Regions from separate parts of the Homo sapiens genome. Here region 2 is linked to region 1. A link means that fine-mapping ties the variant in region 1 to the expression of a gene that starts in the linked region. Tissue or cell type: cerebral cortex. Region 1 holds a variant in brackets; the other region holds the start of a gene. All regions are shown on one strand. Distances are between the middles of the regions.

The links. PIP is the estimated chance that this variant, and not a neighbour inherited with it, causes the effect.
Region 2: LINC02689 starts here. The variant in region 1 is fine-mapped to the expression of LINC02689 in cerebral cortex (GTEx, PIP above 0.99).

What each region holds. Positions count from the first base shown.
Region 1 is chr11:1,435,254-1,443,305 of GRCh38, reverse strand. BRSK2 (BR serine/threonine kinase 2) reads right to left here. Exons shown (of 20, transcript NM_001256627.2): 2 at 7,172-7,266; 3 at 4,915-5,000; 4 at 2,378-2,518; 5 at 700-816; 6 at 167-200. Among named protein-coding and RNA genes, the nearest start is that of MOB2, 47 kb to the left of the region's middle. RefSeq lists an enhancer at 5,720-6,458. The variant G/A (reference allele first, on the strand shown) is at 3,161.
Region 2 is chr11:1,346,168-1,354,219 of GRCh38, reverse strand. LINC02689 (long intergenic non-protein coding RNA 2689) reads right to left here and starts at 3,913. Exons shown (of 5, transcript XR_930972.2): 1 at 3,458-3,913. RefSeq lists enhancers at 66-813, 5,094-5,646.

The DNA of each region.
Region 1 (8,052 bases):
GGGCGCAGGGCAGGGCGGGGGCCTTGGAGGGCCTGGGCTCAGAGGGAGTCGGCCCGGGGACAGGCAGCCTAGCAGCACCTGGGGGTGCGGCAGGCTGGGGTCCCACCAGGGTCAGGTCCCCGCCACCCTGGGCCCCACAGAGCTGCACGCGGCGGCGCTGACTCACCCGGATCACCTCGGGGCAGGCGTAGTGGGGGGACCTGCGGGCAAGGGCAGAGGTCAGCGGCGGGGCTCCGGGCGCTGCCAGGCCCTCCCCCCAGGGTGATGGTGCACCGCAGGGCCCTCAAGGAGGCCTCCAGGGCTGTGGTGCCAGACGCCCCCACATTCCCTGCATCCCCAGGCGGGCTTTTGGGAGGAGATCAAGGTGGGGCACTGGGTCTCTGCTGCGCCCAAAGCTGTCTGCCCACTCGGCTGGGCAGGGGCCAGGGGGTCCCCAGGAGAGGGGCATGTAAGTGGGTCCCAGCCTCTCTCCCAGGCAGGCCAGGGCCAGGGCTGTACCCCTACCCTTACTGTGCCGGGAGGCCTGTCTCCCCACCACCACCAGGCTGTGGGGTACTGGGAGGCTCAGGCACATTGTGGGGGGCCTGCCTGTGGGGTGCCGGGAGGCTCAGGCAGGCTGGGGGCCTCTCAGTCCACTGGCTCCTCTTCCCCCAGCCCAGCCTGTCCCCCAGCCTCTCTCCAGGGCAGAGGGCCACGTACCCACAGCTGGTCTCCAACAGGCTGTCGCCAACCTGCAGGGACGCCATGCCAAAGTCTGCGATGCGGATGTTGTTCTTCTCGTCCAGCAGGAGGTTTTCAGGTTTCAGATCCCTGTGGCTGGGGAGGAGGGTGGTGAGGCTGAACAGGGCCAGTCTCTGCCTTGAGCGCCTCCCCGCCCTGGAGACCCCCTGCCCAGAGCCCACTGCCTCTCCAAACGCCAATCACACATAAGGGCCAATAGCAGCCCAGCCTGGTGATGTCATAGGCAGCCAATCAGAAGTCGCCTGCCTGGTCCGTTTGGCTCTGGCCTTTGGTCAGGCATCCCTGTTTCTCCTGCCATGCCCTCCTGCACCCTGGCAGGCTCCTTCCTGCCCCCTCCTGCTCCCTAGCACACCTGCTCTGGCCTAGACCAACCTAGGGCCCCCAGGCACGTAGGGATGCAAGCAATGGCCCCTGGAAAGGCCGAGGGGCTCCCAGAGTGCTTGGGTGGGTGCCAGGCAGAAAACTTCCCGACACACTGCCCACTCGGGAAAGGGGAGGTGCAGGGGGTCCTCAGGGGGAAAAGGGAAGCACCTGGTGCACATGGTGCACTTGAGAGGTAGCTAATGGGGTGGGGGGGACAGTGCACTTGAGGGGTAGCTAATGGGGGGGACGGTGCACTTGAGGGGCAGCTAATGAGGAGGGGATGATGCACCTGAGGGGTAGCTAATGAGGGGGATGGTGCACTTGAGGGGTAGCTAATGGGGGGACGGTGCACTTGAGGGGTAGCTAATGGGGTGGACGGTGCACTTGAGGGGTAGCTAATGGGGTGGACGGTGCACTTGAGGGGTAGCTAATGGGGGGGAGGGGATGGTGCACTTGAGGAGTAGCTAATGGGGGGGACGGTGCACCTGAGGGGCCACTATGGGGGGACAGTGCACTTGAGGGGCAGCTAATGGGGGGGATGGTGCACTTGAGGGGCAGCTAATGAGGAGGGGATGATGCACCTGAGGGGTAGCTAATGAGGGGGATGGTGCACTTGAGGGGTAGCTAATGGGGGGACGGTGCACTTGAGGGGTAGCTAATGGGGTGGACGGTGCACTTGAGGGGTAGCTAATGGGGTGGACGGTGCACTTGAGGGGTAGCTAATGGGGGGGAGGGGATGGTGCACTTGAGGAGTAGCTAATGGGGGGGACGGTGCACCTGAGGGGCCACTATGGGGGGACAGTGCACTTGAGGGGCAGCTAATGGGGGGCACGGTGCACTTGAGGGGCCGCTAATGGGGGGGATGGTGCACTTGAGGGGTAGTTAATGGGGGGGATGGTGCACTTGAGGGGCAGCTAATGGGGGGGAGGGTGCACTTGAGGGGCCGCTAATGGGGGGGACGGTGCACTTGAGGGGTAGTTAATGGGGGGGATGGTGCACTTGAGGGGCCGCTATGGGGGGACGGTGCACTTGAGGGGCAGCTAATGGGGGGACGGTGCACTTGAGGGGTAGCTAATGGAGGGGACAGTGCACTTGAGGGGCAGCTAATGGGGAGGAGGAGATGGTGCACTTGAGGGGCAGCTAATGGGGGGCATGGTGTACCTCGGAATAGCACCATAGGGGGTGTAGTCCTTGGGGCACAGGGGGCATCTGTGGTAGCGCACTGGGTGTGGGGGTCCCTGGGGAGTGGGGGGCACCAGGGGTGGGGCCTCACCATATGGAGTGGCTGTGGCAGAAGTCCAGCGCAGAGATGATCTGCCGGAAGAACTTCCGAGCCTCCTTAGGCGTCAGCCTCCCCTTCTTCACCAGGTAGTCGAAGAGCTCACCACCTGACACGTGTTCTAGCACCAGGTACCTGCAGGAGACGGGGCCACCAGTGCGCCCAGCTGTGGCTGCCCGCCGCCCCTCCTCATCCCAGGGCCTCCCACAGCCGCCTCCTGGCCCAGCCTCTCTGCAGGCCGCCCCCATCCTCTTGCTGGCTGGGGGGGCAGCTGAGAGGAGCCCTGACTATGGTGGATCTCAAACCATCTGGGCTCCTGGGGGTGGACCTCAAATGAGTCTTCAAGGAGCCTGGGTTGGGGTGGGGTGGGGTGAGGGTGGAGGGACAGGTGAAGGGATGGTTCTGGGGGCACAGCCGCCAGGGAGGGTTTGGAACCCACAGGCTGAGTGTGGCGGGTGCTGGGGCCAAGGCTCGGTGCATGGGGTAGCCTCGGGACTCTGCCCTGCCTGCTCTGGCCCTCACACCCTGTGGTCCTCAGTGGCACAGGCACCGAGCAGGGAGACCACGCAGCCGCATCCAGGGGCCCAGGGACTGTCTGGGCCTCTGTGGGGGGAACAGGAGGTGTGAGGGCCAGGGGAAGGGGGTGAGGAAAAGGTTGGCCTGGCCCTCCCCTTCCTGCCCTGGTGGGCTCCCAGCACCGCCCCCGTGGGGTCTCAGCCACATGGAGGGTCCTGAGGGGCTGGTTCCTGGTGAGAGGCCCGTGGGACGCTGCATGCA[G/A]CTGCTTGGGGGCCGCTCCACCCAGGCTGAACCAGCTCGGGGGGGAGGCCTGTGAGGGTGGTGGCCCCTGGTGTGGCTGTGGTGATGTAGGGGGGCTGTACAGCCAAGGGGGTGGCACCTTGGTGCATGCTCAGAGCTGCCGTGCGGACTGGGATGACTGGCTGTCCCAGGAGCTGGTTTTGGCAGGAGTCAAGGGCCCAGTGTGGGGATGGGAGCAGAGGTTGTGGTGAAGCCCCCAGGGCAGGGGAAGGTGTGAAGCCCCCAGGGCAGGGGAAGATATGAAGCCCCCAGGGCAGGGGAAGGTGTGAAGCCCTCAGGGCAGGGGAGGGTGTGAAGCCCCCAGGGCAGGGGAAGGTGTGAAGCCCTCAGGGCAGAGGAAGGTGTGAAGCCCTCAGGGCAGGGGAAGGTGGTGGGGGCCAGGGTGGGATTCTGGGCAGGGGGGCGGCCAGGCCCAAGGCTCAGCATAGGCCACATGGTGTCCAGAGGGGGTGGGACAACACCCAGGGCCAGACCTCGGGAGAAGCCGCGAGCCCGGCCATGCCCACCTCCTGGGCTCTTTCCTGTTCTTGGGCCTTGGCCTGCTGTGCCCATCCCCCCCGCACTCCCCTGCCCTCCCCTCCGAGAAGGCCTCCCCAGGACCCCACTGCACCGGCACCGTGTCACCATGAGGAAGCCATGCCCCTTGTCACAGTCCACCTTGCCAGCATCAGGGCCAGGACCACCCCCGCCCCCCCAGTCCTCTGGTGACAGTTTCTGAGCCCCTGCTCATGGTGGGGCAGGCGGGCTCCCCACACCCCAACCCTGGGTTTCCTCTCCCCAGCTACACACGAGCTGGCCACCTGCACATGCTCCCCACGAGAATGCAGAAACCCAGGCCAGAGCAAGCGTGGACGTTGCTGCTGGGGGAAGGGGAGCTGCTGGGTTCAGCCAGGCCCTCAGCCAGCTCACCCTGAGGGCAGCCCCCAGCCCAGCCCTGTATGTTCCCTGCTCCCTCAGAGCCTGATGCCTCAGAGATGCCCGGCTAGGATCACCTGGCAGGTCACGCCGCCGCCCTGGGACCAGCGAGGGTCAGATGAGGCTCAAGGCCAGACAGCCCTTGGGCAGCAGCGCCTCATCTGTCAGAAAGCCCCATCAGAGCACACAGAGGAGACTGCCGTGAGTGACCACTGTGCCCATTCCCAGGAGCTCCCTGAGGCTGGGTCTGGGGGGATGGGGTTCACAGCCAGGCATGCCTGGGACAGGGTAGGGATTTCTGCTGGCCTCAGCGGCTGCGGAGGTGACACTTTCAGCCACACTCAGCCACGGTCCAGCCAGGGCGGGATCCTGGTGGCTGTGCCTCGTGTGAGGGAGCCTCAGGGATAGAGACATGGCTCACTGCCCAGGGCTGGGGACGTCCTGGGCAGAGGCCAGGAGGCTCAGCGTGGCCATGTGGGGAGGGCCAGGTGCTCCTGCCCCTTGCCCTGAAACTCCTATCTCCCCTCCAGAAGGTCCTGTTCCCCCTTGCCAGCCTCAGGCTGGTGGCTCTGCGAGCCTCCACAGACCAGGTCTCCGGTTTGGTCCAGAAGCAGAGACCACAGCAGCCTGGGCTGAGACCCTACCCAGGCAGGTGTTCATGCTAGCAGGGCCAGGGCTGCTGGGATGCAGCAGGCGCCCCTGGCCTCCAGCCCCTGTGCTCCCCAAGCCCCAGACACCCACCCCTGCAGCGACAGCTGCCACCTCCGCCACCCCAGCTCTTCAGACCCAGCAATACCTACAAATATTTTTTGTTTTCATAAACGTCGTGCAGCTTTAGGACGTGGGGGTGCTCAATGAGCTTCAGGATCGCGATCTCCCGCTCCACCTGCATGGGAGAGGCCAGAGAACATCACGCTCACAGGGCTGGGGCACGCATCGCTCCCCACAGACACTGCCTTTGGTGCCAGCTGTGGGGGTCGCAGGGGCCTTTGGTGCCAGCTGTGGGGGTCGCAGGGGCCTTTGGTGCCAGCTGTGGGGGACGCAGGGGCCTTTGGTGCCAGCTGTGGGGGACGCAGGGGCCTTTGGTGCCAGCTGTGGGGGACGCAGGGGCCTTTGGTGCCAGCTGTGGGGGACGCAGGGGCCTTTGGTGCCAGCTGTGGGGGATGCAGGGACGTGGGCTGCTCAGCTGGGGCCCTGGCTGGTGGAGAGGGCAGAGGGCAGGGGCCTCAGTGGAGGGAGCCCAGGCCGCCGGGCTGACACCAGCCTGTAGGGCTGAGGACTGGGGGCCCCTGGAGCAGGAGGGCCCCTCCCCACACTGCCCAGGAAGGCAGGCAGCCTGGGCCTCTCTGTGAGCCCAGCCTCAGGAATGGGGCCTGGAGCTGTTGGAGATAAGGCCTCCCAGGCTCCCAGCCAGTCGGATGCAGGGCCCTTCCAGGCAGGCTGTGCCTGGGCTCCGCCCTTCCTTACGGTGGAGGCCTCACAGGAGGAGGGGCCGGGACAGGCCTCTGTGGGCCCCATGAGGTGGGGGCAGGCATCCTGTTGTGTGTGGGACATACAGTAGGTGTGCAGGCCGTGGGCAGGGCACGTGCCCCCCATCCACAGGCTCCCAGCTGGTACTGTCCCCCAAGTGGGGAGGGCCCCAGGGAGGGGCAGAAGTGACCCCAGAGGGCACCTGACTCAGGACACCCAGTCCTGCTCCGAGGTAAGGGCAGGGCCCCCTCCCTCAGACATGCAAGCCTGGCCACGGGCAGCTGGTGCTCCGCCCAGCACAAAGAAGTGGCCGTGTCAGTGGTGGGGCCAGTGAGGCCACGGCCTGGGGTCCCAGCCCTCAGGAGCCAGCGTGGACCAGGCTTTGGAGCTAGGGCCAGTCTTGTGATGGGGTCCCAGCCCTGGCGAGTTGGCCAGCCTGTCCCCAAGTCCTTCCCTCCCAGGCGGACATCTGTGCACAGCGCCTGCAGGTGACAGGGACACCTCCCCTTTCCCGCATCCCCAGGCCCTCCTTTAGTCGGGGCTCACAGGCACCTCCCAAATTCAGCATGGGACTCTCCCCAGCTACGCCCCGCACTGGATCTCTCTGCCAGGCGCTGTCCTGGCCCCATCACTCCCAGGGCCTCTGTTTCTCCTCCAAGGCAGGGTGGGACCCTGCCAGCCCCATCCAGGCAGCCCTCAGCAGCCCTTAACCCCACCCCCACCTCCCCATAGGGTCCCCAGGCCTCCCCAGTTTAGTCTGGTTAATTCCTCCACACCCCAGCAGCTGGGGGGTGCCCAACATGTCACAGTCCCCAACCCTTAGCACCTTCCACAAGCCTCCCCTCTCTTGGCCACTCCCACTGGCCTCGTCCCCGGGTCCTGCCCCACCCGCAGCCCTGCATGCCAAGGAGCGAATGGAGAGGAAGGGAGAGGAGGGGGCTCGACTGGCCCCAGTGCTGGGAGGGTCGCACGCTGCCAGCCCAGGTCCCACTGTGGGTGGGACCCGGAGCAGCTGGGAGCCCCAGCCTCTTCCTCTACACCCAGGGTCAGGCTTCCCAGCAGCCGGGGCCGCCCCCTCCCCACTGAGAGGTGGGTCACAGCCCAGAAACCCTCCACCCAGGGGGCCTGCCTGGTCTCCATGGTGACCAGACACCACCGGATGGAGCCGACGGAGGCCAGGCCCCAGTGGAAGAGGAAGGTGCAGCTCCCCTCTGCCAAGCTGTGCCCTGGTAGGAGAGGGGTGCTCTGAGGCAGGGAACTCCTCTCCATTCTAGCTGGGAACACTGAAGCCCCGCCTGCTAGCACAGCAGGTCCTGCAGCAACTGAACTGCCCAGCTGCAGCCTGTCCCCTCAGGGGTGCCCACTCTGCTTGGAGGCAGGAGAAAGGTGGGCAGGGCTGGAGGGAGGAGCAAGAGCAAAGGCACCCTACCAGGGGACCAGCAGGGGTGTGGCGGCCCAGGAGCCTGCAGGGCCCGCCCCCCCACCCGCATCCAGCACCGCAGGTCCCCACAACCTTGGCTCCCACCCCTGTGCTATTCCCCGCCCCACCCCACCGCCGGCCCCGCCTCCCTCCCCGGCCCCACCCACCTTCATCAGCACCGACTCGCTGAGCTTCTCACGGTTGACGATCTTGATGGCCACCTTCTGGCAGGTGACGCAGTGAACCCCCAGCTTCACCAGACCTGCGGGAGAGAAGCAGCCGCGCTCAGACCCACCCAGGGTGCCTGCAGCGAGCACCCAGCCGGACAGTGCAGGTTGGGGGCCTCCTCCCACGTCCTGGACAGCAGGGGTCCCACCCGCTCCAGGGCCGGAGGCCCCTGCCCGCCTGGGTCGCTGTCCAGAACAGCTCAGTGCTGGCGTCACGCTGCCCCTGCAAAGCTGTGTCTTCCCTCCACGCCGGCCCTTTGGGCTTCTCAGGTCTCTGTGGCCCCCCTCGCCCTCTCCCCATCCCAAGGCACCCAAATCCCCTCCCTTCAGCCTTCAGCCACCCTCAGCTGGGAGCCAGGGTGCCCTCGAGGTGCCTGCCTGGCCCAAGAAGGCTGTCCCCCGCACACCCTGCCGAGACCCCCACCTGCAGCCTTCTGCAGAGATACCTCAGCCGCAGCCCTCCGCCGAGACCCCCACCGACACCCCTCCTCCGCCGAGACCCCCACCGGCACCCCTCCTCCGCCGAGACCCCCACCGGCACCCCTCCTCCGCCGAGACCCCCACCGGCACCCCTCCTCCGCCGAGACCCCCACCGGCACCCCTCCTCCGCCGAGACCCCCACCGGCACCCCTCCTCCGCCGAGACCCCCACCGGCACCCCTCCTCCGCCGAGACCCCCACCGGCACCCCTCCTCCGCCGAGACCCCCACCGGCACCCCTCCTCCGCCGAGACCCCCACCGGCACCCCTCCTCCGCCGAGACCCCCACCGGCACCCCTCCTCCGCCGAGACCCCCACCGGCACCCCTCCTCCGCCGAGACCC
Region 2 (8,052 bases), 89 kb after region 1:
GCCCAGCAGGGCAGCAGGCAGGTGGTGAAGGATGCACCTATGGTGATGGCTTAGACAGGAACTGGAGGGGCAGGCCCTGCCGCTTTTGTGGCCAGGATCTCCCCAGTCTCTGCCACTCCGGCCGCCACAGCAAAACACCCCCGTCGGCGGCTTCAAGCAACCGACATTTAGCTCACAGCTCTGGAGACTGTGAGTCTAACAGGCCCCGGCAGACTGTGGTTCACAGCCAGCGCCTCCTGGCCACATCCGAACGTAATGAAGCGGTGAGGGGCTCTCTGAGGTCCCTTTTGTCTGGGCACTAATCCATTTACGAGGCCGACCCTCACGGCCAGACCCGCCCAAAGGCCCCTCCTCCCAATAGCATCACCTTGGCAGTGAAGGTTTCAACAGAAGAATTTCTGGGGATAGACGTTCGGGCCATGGTGACCTCTCTGGGGGTGCCCCTCAGTGTGAGAAGGACGGAGAGAAGGCGCCGGCTCCACAGGTAGCTGCGGATTCACATTCCAGGCGGAGGTGCTGGGGCAGAGGCAGGGACGGGTGTCTGGGTGTGATCTAGATCCTGAAGGGAGGCCCGGGGGCCAAGCAAGGCGGCTGGAGCGGCCCCAGCACCATGGAGGCCACTCACTCACAGGCTCTCAGAGGCATTGGGCTTGATGCCCCCCAGGCTGTCCTGTGGGTCGGGCACCGCAGTAGGGCTGGGAAGACCAGGCCTGGCCCTGGCCGGCCCAAAGCAGGAAAATGGGTCGGCAGGTGGAACGTTTGCCCTTTGAGGGAACTGGGGCTGAGGTAGGCAGGGAGGTGGCACTCTGCTCCGTGGGCTGGAAAGAGCCCTGGGAAAGGGGGAGAAGAGCCACGTGCAGCCACGGCCATGCTGAGTCCAGACCCAGGACCAGCAGGGGTGGCTGAGGAAATGAGATGCAGAGAGGTGGTCATATAGTGACTAGAGGAGGGGGTGGTCTTGGATGGGGCGTCTTGGATGCAGGGTCTTGGATGGTGGGTGTAGACACATTTTTTGAGACAATTTGCTATGAATAGAAGAAAATTAGGGAGTTGCTAGAGGGGTTCCATGTTCCAGGAGGCACTGTGACAGGCAAGAGGGGGTGGGGGACCTGGTGTAGGCCTGGGAGGGGAGTCGGCGGGGATGAGGGGTAGGGGATGGGGGTCCAGGTGTGAGGCCTGGGAGGGGAGTCGGTGGGGATGAGGGTGAGGGTGGGGGTCCAGGTGTGAGGCCTGGGAGGGGAGTCAGTGGGGATGAGGGGTGAGGGTGGGGGTCCAGGTGTGAGGCCTGGGAGGGGAGTCATTGGGGGTGGGGGTCCAGGTGTGAGGCCTGGGAGGGGAGTCGGTGGGGATGAGGGGTGGGGGTGGGGGTCCAGGTGTGAGGCCTGGGATGGAAGTTGGTGGGGGTGGGGGGTGGGGGGTCCAGGTGTGAGGCCTGGGAAGGGAGTCAGTGGGGATGAGGGGTGGGGGGTGGGGGGTCGAGGTGTGAGGCCTGGGAGGGGAGTTGGTGGGGGTGGGGGTCCAGGTGTGAGGCCTGGGATGGAAGTTGGTGGGGGTGGGGGGTCCAGGTGTGAGGCCTGGGAGGGGAGTTGGTGGGGGTGGGGGTCCAGGCATGGGGCCTGGGAGGGGAGTCAGTGGGGGTGGGGGTCCAGGTGTAAGGCCTGGGAGGGGAGTTGGTGGGTGTGGGGTTCCAGGTGTGAGGCCTGGAAGGGGAATTGGTGGGGGCAGGGGTCTAGGTGGGAGGCCTAGAAGGGGAGTGGGTGGGGGTCCGGGTGTGAGGCCTGGGAGGGGAGTTGGTGGGGGTGGGGGGTCCAGGTGTGAGGCCTGGGAGGGGAGTTGGTGGGGGTGGGGGGTCCAGGTATGAGGCCTGGGAGGGGAGTTGGTGGGGGTGGGGGGTCCAGGTATGAGGCCTGGGAGGGGAGTTGGTGGGGGTGGGGGTCCAGGTGTGAGGCCTGGGATGGAAGTTGGTGGGGGTGGGGGGTCCAGGTGTGAGGCCTGGGAGGGGAGTTGGTGGGGGTGGGGGTCCAGGCATGGGGCCTGGGAGGGGAGTCAGTGGGGGTGGGGGTCCAGGTGTAAGGCCTGGGAGGGGAGTTGGTGGGTGTGGGGTTCCAGGTGTGAGGCCTGGAAGGGGAATTGGTGGGGGCAGGGGTCTAGGTGGGAGGCCTAGAAGGGGAGTGGGTGGGGGTCCGGGTGTGAGGCCTGGGAGGGGAGTTGGTGGGGGTGGGGGGTCCAGGTATGAGGCCTGGGAGGGGAGTTGGTGGGGGTCCAGGCATGGGGCCTGGGAGGGGAGTCAGTGGGGGTGGGGGTCCAGGTGTGAGGCCTGGAAGGGGAATTGGTGGGGGCAGGGGTCTAGGTGGGAGGCCTAGGAGGGGAGTGGGGGTCTGGGTGGGAGGCCTGGGAGGGGAGTTGGTGGGGGTGGGGGGTCCAGGTGTGAGACCTGGGAGAAAAGCTAGCAGAGGCAGAGGGTTTAATCCACCCACCTCGCAAGAGTGTCAGGAACAACAGGTCATTTCTCAAAGGCAGTGAGGCATAGAGGTTGGAGATCAGACCTCACATCACACTGAGGGTGATCCCGGTAATTACAAATTACATTTGCAACAGATCAGTACACAGAGAACATTTAAATAGAACATAATTAGTACGCTCAGAAAAATCGGTAAAACACATAATTAGTAAGCTCAGAAAAATGGTAAAACACAGAAATACTAATGAAAACAAACACATCTGCATATTCCAGTGCGGCCGAGCTTCTGTGAGAGACCCGTTGCCGTTCGCAAGTCCGAGGTGATTCAACCTTTTAAAGCCAAGGTCAGCGTGATTCTTCCAGGATAATGAGAACATCGACACCATTTGACTCAGGATTATAGTTTCTGGGCCAAATTTTAAGGAAACAATCCCTAAGGAGAAACAATTGTTTTCTCCTTTCCATGTTAGAGTGTTAGCTCTAAGAGTCAATATTACTAGCCTAAGAGTCAATATTACTAGCCTGGGTGCAGTGGCTCACACCTGTAATCCCAGCACTTTGGGAGGCCGAGGCAGGCGGATCGCCTGAGGTTGGGAGTTTGAGACCAGCCTGGACAACATGGTGAAACCCCGTATCCACTAAAAGTTAAAAAAAAAGTAGCTGTGTGCATTGGTGTGTTCCTGTAGTCCCAGCTACTTGGGAGGTTGAGGCAGGAGAATCACTTGAACCCGGGAGGCAGAGGTTGCAGTGAGCTGAGATCACACTACTGCACTCCAGCCTGGGCAACAGAGCATGACTATCTCAAAAAAAAAAAAAAAAGAAAAAGAAAACAAATGAGAGTAAACATGATTGGAAATCACTCAAGTGTCCACAGTAAAAGAATGGTTGGGCAGATTACGGTACATTCACTTAAAATCCTATGCCATTGGGGATATATTGTCATAATGCCGAAGGGAAAATGAAAAATTACAGTGGCCAGCGTTTTACGACACTCACCATGGGTCAAGAATGCTCCGTGTTGAACTCATTTAATCTTCACAAAGGTCCAAGGAGTAGCTTTGATCGGTCCCCACCTTTATGAATCAGGAAATGAAATCTCGTGCCCACAGTCACACAGCCCGTGAGCTGCAGATCCCAGGCCCACCCTCCCTGGCCTCTTGTGGTCCCAGCCTTGGGGTCAACTCTCTCCCACGCAGCTGGAAGGCTCGAGAACGGAGAACTCTTCAGAAAACTGTTTCCTGGGCAGAGAAGGGCCAGCTGGAGGGAGAGGAGCCCAGGGGAGCTGACCAAGACCACACGTCTGGGGTGTCGCTGCCTGGTTTACACCTGGTCCTATGGGTGGGGCGGGTACCAGAGGGTTTGAGCCTGACCGGTCAGGTGGGCCTGGCTGGGTGGTGTCCACTGCTGTGGGGGCCTCCACGTGGGAGGAGAAATTCCCAGAGCCAAAGAGGAGTGTGGTCCCAGAGCACGGCTCCCGGGCGCCAACCTTGGGGGAAGCGGAGGAGGCTCCCAGGCCAACCCTGGGGGAGGTGGAGGAGGCATGGGGAGAGGGTTGGGCAGCAGTGCAGGGAGGGTTGTCAGAGCCAGGGCGGGGCGGCCTCGCCCTCCCACATCAGCCTCGCTGCCTGCCGGGGGTCAGGGCGCCAGGGCCTCTCCTGGGGCTACGACTGCACCCGGAGCCGTCAGATTCTCCCAGGCAGAGGAGCCAGGTCCAGGACCCTCTCATTCTGCAGGGCTCTGCGGAGCATGGGGGCAGGTAGGGGAGGGCAGCAGGACCCTCAGAAATGGACGGACTCGGGCTGGACCCGTAAGATGTGGCTGCACCCAGGCTGAAGCCAGCTGTGCTCTGGGAACAGCTGGGGAAAGGAGCTGTGTCCCCCGGGGCCATCGTTCCCTCTGTCGGGGGCTTTGACTGCCGGAGAAGAGGGAAGGGAGGAGTTATCCGGCAGGACCAGGGTGGGCACAGGTGGCCTCTGAGACCCTGTCTTTGTGCGTTGCTCTCCATGCAGCGACGTGGCTGGAAAACCAGAGCCCTCGCCAGGAGAGAGTGAGGCTTGACAGACAGCGCCTCTCCCTCCGCAGGGCACCGGCCCTGAGATGGTACAGGAGCAAATCTACCCACTGGGCCCCAGGCTGGCCGCCGCATAGGAGGGGCTGGGTCGGCCGAGACGTCTCAGAGGGAAGCTGGAGTCCCCGGAAGGTTCTGGTCCAGAGGCCCAGTGGAGGGACACACAGACCCACCCCCGAGAGCACTGAATTTGGGTCAGCGCCTGGGCCATCTGCAGCCCCGAAGCCCACACCCTGGGGTCTCCAAGCCCCCCCCAGCACAGGCTAGCGGCTCCAGGCAGAGGCTTTTCTTCCTGAGGGGTGTCTACCCGGCCCCCCGGCCTGCAGGGCAGAGTCACAGCGCAGGGCTGGCAGGCCTGGCAGGGAGGACAAAGGGACAGAGGCCGAGTCAAGACGTTGTGTCTCCCGAGCAGACGGAGCAGGTGGGGCCTCAGGCCTCCAGGGCCGCAGGAGTCATCCATCAAACTGAGTGCCCCTCATTGAAATTCTAACGGCAATGCGGCCACAGGCAGGGCTCCTCCAGGGCATGCCCTCCCTGCCTGCCTGGTGCTCCTGAGAGCCAGACCCAGGTCACAAGGTCATGAGGCCGCACGCAGAGGCCATCCCCGGGGAGCTCCGGGTGGGCGCCCTGCATGGCCTTCCTGAGGACCACACGCCCCTCCCCCAGACGCTGGACAGACACACTTCTCATGGGGAGCTGGGTTTTTCTCGGGTTCTCGGTGCCCACATGGCTCTGCCGTATATGATAAAGCATGTCCTTTGCCACCAGCTAGTGCTTTGTGTGTGTGAGTTAATCTCCCCTCCCGGGCGGAAGGATGCCGCCCTCCCCAAGCTCCCCACACGGGTCGGCCCACCCACGACCAGGGTCGGCCGCCCAGCCTGATCCACATGTAGGACCCAGCTTGGCCCCCTGTGCTCATGCAGAGTCTTGCTTTTCATTTAGTTCAGAAGGTGGGTAGGGAAGAGAGGGCTGGGGTTGATCCCTCCAGCCTCCCACAGTGTCTGAGGACCAGAGAGGGGCCCTGTGATACAGAGAGAGGGTGACGTAGAAGGGGGTGCGGTTTGCAGAACAGGCTCCTGCCAGCTGTGGCAAGGACTTGGGGTTTTATTCCAAAGGAACTCCCAACTAATCATTAGCCAGAAACACAGAATCTGGGTCATGACCCCTGCTTGGTCCCCAGCATTGTTTGGAAGTGGAGGTGAGGATGGGGGAAAGTCACAAGCGTTCCTGGCACTCTTTCTGCTTAAGCAGTGGGTGGCTGGTGGTTCTATTTACAGAGATGGTGGGGTTGAGTCTGGGGCCCTGTGGGTAGATGGGGCTGAAGACCCGGCGTGGGAAGCGAACCACAGACATGAGTGACTGTGACGGCGCTACTGACAGCCGGCATCTGGAGTGTAACATGCCAGGCATCGTCCCCGCACTTACACGGATTGTTCATGAATCCTGCTCTGCAAGCGTCTCCCTCCTATTGGAGGGAATCTCCTCAAATGAGGCCATTCCTATAACTAAGGAGGGTTGACCAGGCCCCTGAGGAGGCCGCAAGACCTCTGGAGAGGCCACAAGACTCCTGAGGAGGCCAGGAACTCCGAAGAGAAAGGGAGTGCCAGCTGAGCATGGAAAACTCAGCAAAGATGTCTTTCAAAACTGTTTCTTTGCTGTGAGGCCAGCGTGTGTCAGTGGGGTCCTCTGGACCAGCTGAGTCAACAGTTTCGTAGGTATGCAGGACCTGAAGGAATTTTTTTTTTTTGAGACGGAGTCTCCCTCTGTCACCCAGACTGGAGTGCAATGGTGCGATCTTGGCTCACTGCAGCCTCCACCTCCCGGGTTCATGCAATTCTCCTGCCTCAGCCTCCTGAGTAGCTGGGATCACAGGCACCTGCCACCAGGCCCAGCTAATGTTTGCATTTTTAGTAGAGATGGGTGGTTTTGGCCAGGCTGGTCTCAAACTCCTGACCTCAAGTGATCCACCTGTCTCGGCCTCCCAAAGTGCTGGGATGACAGGCGTGAGACACCATGCCTGGTCCGTACCCACCTTCTGAACCAAATGAAAACCAAGACACAGCCGCCACCCCATGAGGCCAAGCCGGGTCCCACGTGCGTATCTGCTGGGTGACTGCCCCGGTCCTGGGCACACATGCAGATGATCCGTGACGTGCTGTACACTGACAGGGCCACAGACAAACGTCACGTTTATTCCATCCCGGCGGACATGGAAAAGCACTGGACAAAACCCATCACCCACTTGTGATAAAAATTCTCCCACCAGGGCCAGGAAGGAGAAAGGGCAGCTCCGTGTACACCGACTCTTCACTCAGCGAATTGTTCGTGTGCGTCACTGTGGGCTCGCGGCTTTTTATTCTGTGGGTTACAATCCAGTAAACTATCACCCGGCGCGTGGGAGCTTTCATCTTGACTCCCAGGTCCCCTCCCCACAAGCCCTGCTCCCGTTCACGCATTTCCTCACGTTCCGGGACTGTGAGTGCTCCAAGCTCAGCCTGACGTTTCCCTGCCCCGGCCTTGGTGCCAGCCGAGACTCCGAGGCCTGTGGGGTCCTCTCACTGGAGGGTGACGTCGGGGACCGAGACCTGCACCCTGTGCTTCCTTTGGTACTGGGGTATCCCGGTGTCTAGGCCCTCTTGGTGGACAGAGCCAGAAGATGCATGCCTGTGTACTCACCCCCATGCACAAACAATCTACATGTGTGTAGATTGACCGTGTGAGCTCATGCTGCTGCCACCCACCCTAGGGCACACGTCCATCCTCGCCCACCCCAGCAGCACCGGCCCCTCCTCACCCACCTCAGGGGCATGGGCCCTGTCCTCACCCACCCCAGCAGCACACACCCCATCCTCACCCACCCCAGGGCACACATCCATCCTCGCCCACCCCAGCGGCATGGGCCCCTCCTCACCCACCCCAGGGGCATGGGCCCTGTCCTCACCCACCCCAACAGCACACGCCCCCTCCTCACCAGCACATGCCCCCTCCTCACCCACCCCAGGGCACACATCCATCCTCACCCACCCCAGGGCACGTGCCCCATCCTCACCCACCCCAGGGCACACGTCCATCCTCACCCACCCCAGGGCACACGTCCATCCTCACCCACCCCAGGGCACACGCCCATCCTCACCCACCCCAGGACACACGTCCATCCTCGCCCACCCCAGTGACACGGGCCCCTCCTCACCCACCCCAGGGCACACGCCCATCCTCACCCACCCCAGACGCATGGGCCCTGTCCTCACCCACCCCAGGGCACACGTCCATCCTCACCCACCCCAGCGGCACGTGCCCCATCCTCGCTCACCCAAGTGGCACACGCCCATCCTCACCCACCCCAGGGCATGCGCCCATCCTCACCCACCCCAGGGCACACGCCCATCCTCACCCACCCCAGCAGCGCGGGTCCCTCCATGCCCACCCCAGCAGTGCAGGCCTGTTCTCGTCCGCCGCTTTACCTGTTGCATCTCTTGTCTGAAGAAACCTGGCTTTCACACCTTCACCTGCTTGTCTAGTCCCA